Homo sapiens: one gene and its partner. The protein of the gene in region 1 purifies or fractionates together with the protein of each later gene. This does not show direct contact. Each region holds a gene or a part of one and is shown in the gene's direction. Other genes may lie near its edges. The genes, in order: OR5C1 and FAM81A.

Region 1 (2,959 bases):
CGCAAGATACCAGGCTACTCCTTTCTCCGATCTTACTCCAAAGGAAAGATGTCCCTACTAGCAAACCTCAAAAGCCATGGCCAGGTGCCCGTTGGATCTGAAGATTATTTCTGCTCATTCCACTGTCTCTTTTCTTACCTGGAAAACTGGAGAGGAGAATGCATATAGAGTCACAAAGTTTTCAATCATTGGCTGGACACTAAATATCATCCCATTCATTCATTTAACAAATCTTTTTTGAGCACCAGCTATGTGCTAGGCAATGCTCTCAGTGCTGTAGACACAAAAGTGAATAAGAGGGACAAGACCCCTGTGGGTGTGGTGGAGCATGCCTATAATCCCAGCTGCTTGGGAGGCTGAGGTGGGAGGAGGATCACTTAAGCCCAAGAATTTTAGTTCAGCCTGGGCAACATAGTGAGACCTTGTGTCTCTTTAAAAAAAAAAAAAAAAAGGCTGGGCGTGGTGGCTCACACCTGTAATCCCAACACTTTGGGAAGCTGGGGCAGGCAGACTTGAGATCAGGAGTTGAAGACCAGCCTGACCACCAACATGGTGAAACCCTACCTCTACTTAAAAAATACAAAAATTAGCCGGGCATGGTGGCGGGCACCTGTAGTCCCAGCTACTCGGGAGGCTGAGGTAGGAGAGTCACTTGAACCCAGGAGGCGGAGGTTGCAGTGACCCAAGATTGCACCACTGCACGCCAGCCTGGGCAACAAAACAAGACTCCATCTCAAAAAAAAGAAAAGAAAAGAAAAGAAAAAAGAAAAAAAGACGGGCCGGGTACAGTGGCTCATGCCTGTAATCCCAGCACTTCAGGAGGCTGAGGTGGGCGGATCACCTGAAGTTGGGAGTTCGAGACCAGCCTGACCAACATGGAGAAACTCCATCTCTACTAAAAATATAAAATTAGCCAGGCACGGTGGCACATGCCTATAATCCCAGCTACTTGGGAGGCTGAGGCAGGAGAATCGCTTGAACCCAGAAGGCGGAGGTTGTGGTGAGCTGAGATCACACCTTTGCACGCCAGCCTGGGTAACAAGAGCAAAACTCCATCTCAAAAACAAAAAAAGGCTTCTGCAATGACTTCTAAGAGTTAGAAACAGGTTTTGAGAGGTTACGTGGCTTGCTCAAGGTCACAGCAATTTTGTTGCACAGGTGAGCTGAAACCCAAGCCTACCTAACTCCCAGTACAGGATGCTTTCTTCTCCCTGGCCATGGCCTTGCCATTGCTCTTATCTCCCTCCTGCTTTGCCTCTTCTCAGTCTCTGTCCAGTAGGATGAACTCAGAGAACCTCACCCGGGCCGCGGTTGCCCCTGCTGAATTCGTCCTCCTGGGCATCACAAATCGCTGGGACCTGCGTGTGGCCCTCTTCCTGACCTGCCTGCCTGTCTACCTGGTGAGCCTGCTGGGAAACATGGGCATGGCGCTGCTGATCCGCATGGATGCCCGGCTCCACACACCTATGTACTTCTTCCTGGCCAACCTCTCCCTGCTGGATGCCTGCTATTCCTCCGCCATCGGCCCCAAGATGCTAGTGGACCTGCTGCTGCCCCGAGCCACCATCCCTTACACAGCCTGTGCCCTCCAGATGTTTGTCTTTGCAGGTCTGGCTGATACTGAGTGTTGCTTGCTGGCAGCCATGGCCTATGACCGCTACGTGGCCATCAGAAACCCACTTCTCTATACAACAGCTATGTCGCAGCGTCTATGCCTGGCCTTGCTGGGAGCATCAGGCCTGGGTGGGGCAGTGAGTGCCTTTGTTCACACAACCCTCACCTTCCGCCTGAGCTTCTGCCGCTCCCGGAAGATCAATAGCTTCTTCTGCGATATCCCTCCACTGCTGGCCATCTCGTGCAGTGACACCAGTCTCAATGAACTCCTTCTCTTCGCCATCTGTGGCTTCATCCAGACAGCCACGGTGTTAGCTATCACGGTGTCTTATGGCTTCATCGCTGGGGCTGTGATCCACATGCGCTCGGTCGAGGGCAGTCGGCGAGCAGCCTCCACCGGTGGTTCCCACCTCACAGCCGTGGCCATGATGTACGGGACACTCATTTTCATGTACCTGCGCCCCAGCTCCAGCTATGCCCTGGACACTGACAAGATGGCCTCTGTGTTCTATACCCTGGTCATCCCGTCTCTCAACCCACTCATCTACAGCCTCCGCAATAAGGAGGTCAAGGAGGCCCTCAGGCAGACCTGGAGCCGATTCCACTGTCCAGGGCAGGGGTCCCAGTGATTGGTCCAGGGAGGCTGGGTAGGTCTGACTATGAGGGGATGAGGAAGGTCGGGGCCTCTTTCTGGCCCCGTCACTGTCGGTAAAGATGGGATGTTCCTCTGGCTTGGATGTCTCATGTCATTGTTTAAGGGACAGTAAAGAGGGAAATGAAAGCTTATAGCAGGGAGAAAAAGATTTGGGGTTCATCTAGGGCTAGACCTAGAGCCAGACGCTAGACCAGGCTAATGTTTCTGTTGCACTGCCTCAGGTTCTTCAACATTCAAAACATTCTTCAATATTCAGCTGGGTGCAGTGGCTCATGCCTGTAACCCCAGCACTTTGGGAGGCCAAGGCAGGAGTTCAAGACCAGCCTGGGCAACACAGGGAGACCCCCCCACCATCTCTACAAAAAAAAAAAATTGTTAAAAATAAGCTGGGCATGATGGCATACTATGCAGTCACAAAAAAGAAAGAGATGATATCCTTTTCAGGGACGTGGATGGCTCTGGAGACCATTTTCCTCAGCAAACTAACACAGGATCAGAAAACCAAACACCACAAGTTCTCACTTATAAGTGGGAGCTAAACAACGAGAACATGCGGACATATAGAGGGGAACAACACACACTGGGGCTTATCGGAGGGTGGAGGGTAGGACGAGAGAGAGAAGCAAAAAAAAAAAAAACTAATGGATATTAGGCTTAATATCTGGGTAATAAAATAATCTGTGCAACCAA
Region 2 (4,339 bases), on another chromosome or scaffold:
GTGATGTGTCTCTTTTTCATCTTCACCATTGTGTCTCAGGGCTAAGCATAGTTTCTAGCACTTGGCAGCCATCCAATAGATACTGTTGGCTGAATGAATGTTACAGATGCGTTAGCGCTTTGTGGAAGTTATTAGCCCGTTTTACTGGTGAGGAAACAGTCGCAGAATACCCACAAATATTTCAAAGATCACACACAAATAACAGTCCTTAATACTAATAGCCCCTAAATAATAATGCTGCCGGAGAGAGAATTCCAAAACCGCTCAGCCGAATCCACAGTTCGGGCTCTTCTACCATGTCGGGCTCCTTCCCCTGGGTTGGAAGGGCTCAGGCTGGGGCGGGGTGGGGGAGACAGACAGGAGCCCCTGTGCTGGGTAAGTACCAGTATCTGCGAAGGAGGCACGAACCAGATGAGGCAAAGGTCGTGTCCCCCGCAACTCCGCTGAAATCCTGCCCACCGAGAGGAAGCACAATTATGAGTGAATGGGCTTGTGCGTCCTGATGAGAATCCAAAATCGAGAGGAAGGTGGAAAGAGCCAGGACGCGCTGGGAGGGGATGAAGCTGACGGGAGAAGAAAGGGCTGGGAAGAGGAGGGGTGTTCGGGGTTCTTCTTCTCGTCGTGTCTGCTGCGATGAGACACGATCCTGGGTCCCAACTGCAGGTGTCAAGGCGATTCAGTAAATGACACATGGCAGCCCCGGAGGGTTCGTTCACCTGCACAGGTGGGGCGTCACCGTGGCCTAATCAAATAACTTCTCCCCAATTTGAGGTGGGGCGGGGGAGAGAACTATTTTTGTGGGAAAGCGGTTTAGTAAATAAGGTATATTGGGGCTCTAGAGAGAATTGCAGTGCCACCACCATGGCTATGATCTCCGTCAGGCACCATTTCAACACCTCTCCAAATCAACCATCCCTACAACAGGATTTATTTTCCAATGAGCGAAATCCCCGCCCGCCAACTCCAAGGCGCTTGGATGCGAGCTCTGTGGGAAACAGCAGCGACGAGCAGAGGCTATTTTGGGTGTGGGAACGAGGAGGGAGGAGGGGCGGCGCCGCCAGGCTGGGCGCGGGTGCGCGGGGAAAGCCTCCAGCTCGGGCTGCCACGGCAACCGCGTCCAGGCAACGCGCCCGGAAGCGGCTCCGGCGGCGCGCGGCGGCTCGCGCCCCCCGGGAGCCGCGAACCCGGCCGGGCCGCGCGCCGGGCCAGGCGGCAGGCGCGCGCTGATTGGACGGCGCTCCCCGCGGCGCGGGCCCGCAGCCGGGCGCCCTGCTCAGCCAGCGCCAGCGGCCGCCGCACCCAGCCGCGCCGGCGAGGACATGGGCAGCCGCGGCGCGCCCACCCCCCGCGCCGGTGAGTGCCGCGCTCTGGGAACCCCGGCCGGGCGGCCTCTGGGGCTGGGCGGCGGGAGCTCTCTGGGACGGCCGGTGACCTTGGGGCAGCCTCTCAGGAGATAGGCGTGGGGTAGAGAGAGCTGCGCGTGGCCCATGTGACATGCCGCGGGCGAGAGGGTTAACTGCATGTGACGCGAAGGGCTGAAGTTGGGCACAGAGCGCAACTGGCGTTGCATTTTCGCGGGGGCTGCATGCTAGCGAACCAACCGACGCCCGGAGGGACTGTTTGGGGGAGCTGGGGTGGTGCACGGATTGCCAGGGGTAAAGGCGAGTCAGCCGACCCACTACTCAGAGTGAGTGACCTTGGGTAGGTTAACCATCTGCTCTTCCGCCCCTTCGCTTTTTCTCATCTTTCAAACGAGAGGCTAGGGGGTCTTTGCAGTTCCAGAATGCTGTTGTGCCATCCTACTGCGAGCTGAGAAAGAGCCCTAAAGTACGGTTCTGCAGGTACCGGAGATGCAAAGCTTAACCATGTTTATTCTAGGAGGGGTTTCCATTAATTGGCTCCTAAAGTGGTAAGAAATGTTATCGTTGTCTGGAAGATTATGGAGCAAGCAGTCGGTGGTCCGGAGAATGGCTTCTTAAGATGCACAGGTTAAAACCTCTTTGGTGCCCTAAAGACATGAACAAAATCAGGATTAATGCTCCTAAGTTCTTCTTTCCTGTAGTTAATCTAATAGGAAACTTTGTATTTGAACAGGTAAAATCAAAACCCAATCGTGGCAGGCAGCAGCAAATTAAGTGAGTCATTTCTTCAATGTGCACGAGGTTTATGTGTGTGTGTGCGCGCGTGTGTGTGTGTGCGTGTGTGCGCGTGCGCTCTCGTCCTCAGCTCAAAGTCTGCGTACGGCAGTGTTGGAAATTATTTCATAGGAGTAACCAGAAATAATGCTAGAATGATTCGAATCCACAAAAGTGCAGCTCTCTCAGAAGCAAGGGCAAACATTTGCAACTTGCTTTTAAAATAAGAGGTTTGTAGAGTAAATATATTCTTTATTGAGAACCATCCCCAGATTTGCACATTGTATCTGCCTTCTGGGCCCTGTCACTGAATGCGCGTGTGTGTATGTGTGTGTGTGTGTGTTGGGGGGGGCGGGTTCCTTGGCACTTATAATATTTTTAGCGTTGACTGGTACTAAAAAGGACACTTAGGCCCCCTTCCATATCCACTGTCTATAAACTTCCCTCTTCCACGGAGGGGAATGGAGGACGTACCCTCTCACAGGTACCCCTGGTTGCCCCTTCTGACTTTCTACTTAAAGCTACCCTTGATTTTCATTCGAATCTGATTTCATCTGTATAAGAACGTGGGTTGGGAAGACACAGTTTCCAATGCTAATGAATAAGCTTCTGCAAGCTTGTTTACCTGAGGGCTTAATAACCTTTAATGTGTTACATGTTAGAAATCTGATAGCATACGGATAGAAAAATACTTAGTGTCCAGGAATTCAACCATGAAGCCCTACCAACCATTTAATGAGCCACACTACATGGTGCTTGGAAACGTTATTAGCGCATTATTCAGCCTCCTCTCTCTGCAGGCCACTAGGCTGTGTCACTCCGACCTGGCTTTAAATGTCTTGTTTCTTGTATCCTGCAGCCACACTCTTGCATTTTCATTTTTTATGTAGCTGAACCCACCTTCTCTCCCGAGCACCAGAGCCTGAGTGAACAACTTGCCGCAGAAGAGCCTTCTCTAGTGTCCTCCACCGTCTCACCAGAGTAGGGATGCTCTTCCGCTTCTCCTTAGTGCTGCCTCCAAACCAATGCACCATCACCAACCAAGTCTCCTCTCGGAAGGTAGTGCTATCTGCTTGTGCCCCTACCCTCCTTCTTATCTTCTGGTCCAGTGCTTCCCAAACCTGGGGGCTCCTCAGAATCACCTGGGACATTTTGAAAAACTTGGTCTTTAGACTCTCTCAGATATACCAAATTAGAATCATTGGGGGCTGGGGCAGGGTGGGGGAGTAAGACCTAAAAATCCCTACTTTAAAAACAAACCCCAAAAGGAGGAGCAGCAGGAGACGATGAAGAGAAGGAACAGAACTCTCTGGGCAATTCTGATGTACACCCAGGTACAGTGGGGATCTCTTCACTTGATGCCCCAAAAAAGGGATAAACAAACAAAAAACGTGAGCAGCCAGCTTCATTCTCTTCTCTGCTTTGTCTCTTGCCAGTGACTTTGGGTTTTGTGTTGAAGCTCTCTTAATTCTTTGACCTTGAAGTTCCTCAACATCTATCCCAGTAGCCTCAGTTTCCACTTTGCTTCAACTAACATCTTGGACTTGTTCAGTCTTGAACAAGACTAAACCTTTGAGATCTTGAACTCGGACTTCAGCCTACTTAGCTGATACTACCCACATACTGCTCTGGATTTTAACCATCGCTGAGGACCCTGGTCCCTTAAGCACTTGCTGTTCCAATCCTTCAGCCCCTCTGTGACTCTGTTTCTCCACTTGGGGCATGTAAGTTGCTGGCCATTTCCATTCTGTCTGGGATCCCAGAATCCTTTGTTTCAATGTGTTGGGCTTCTTATATTTCAGTCCTCAATCCAAAATCACCCCCGCTTGCCTGCTTATTCTTCTCCCAGCCTGCCACATTATCTAGGAGGAAGTCACAAAGACCTTTGGACAGGTTCCATTGAAAATTTACGTTGGCTCTAATTTCACCAGATAAATTCCCACTTTACCTTCCTCAAGGCCCCCAAGCATCTTTCTCTTCCTCTCTTTGTCCTTCTTTATTTCGTCTTTCTCAAAGGAAGAAAATGTCTACAAGTCCCTTCCCCAAGGTTAATCCACATGCAATCCACACTCTTCATTCTCTGGACTTGATTCCTTCCTTCTCACCTCTTTTGGGAACTGGCTGCATTTGTTATTCCTCTTCTCCAGTGTCTTTGGTCCTTCCCTACTCTGCCCCAACCCTTACTCCACCATATGGGTCATCCT

The links.
Region 2: the proteins of OR5C1 (region 1) and FAM81A purify together in Homo sapiens (affinity purification with mass spectrometry; one large-scale study listed by BioGRID and IntAct). This does not show direct contact.

The regions. Positions count from the first base shown.
Region 1 is NC_000009.12:122,787,653-122,790,611, forward strand, and holds OR5C1 (olfactory receptor 5C1), read left to right. Parts: upstream 1-1,280; coding exon 1,281-2,243; downstream 2,244-2,959. UniProt on the Homo sapiens protein: Odorant receptor.
Region 2 is NC_000015.10:59,436,930-59,441,268, forward strand, and holds the start of FAM81A (protein FAM81A), read left to right. Parts: upstream 1-1,256; 5' UTR 1,257-1,353; exon of another isoform or gene 1,354-1,701; intron 1,702-1,726; exon of another isoform or gene 1,727-2,135; intron 2,136-3,025; exon of another isoform or gene 3,026-3,194; intron 3,195-4,339.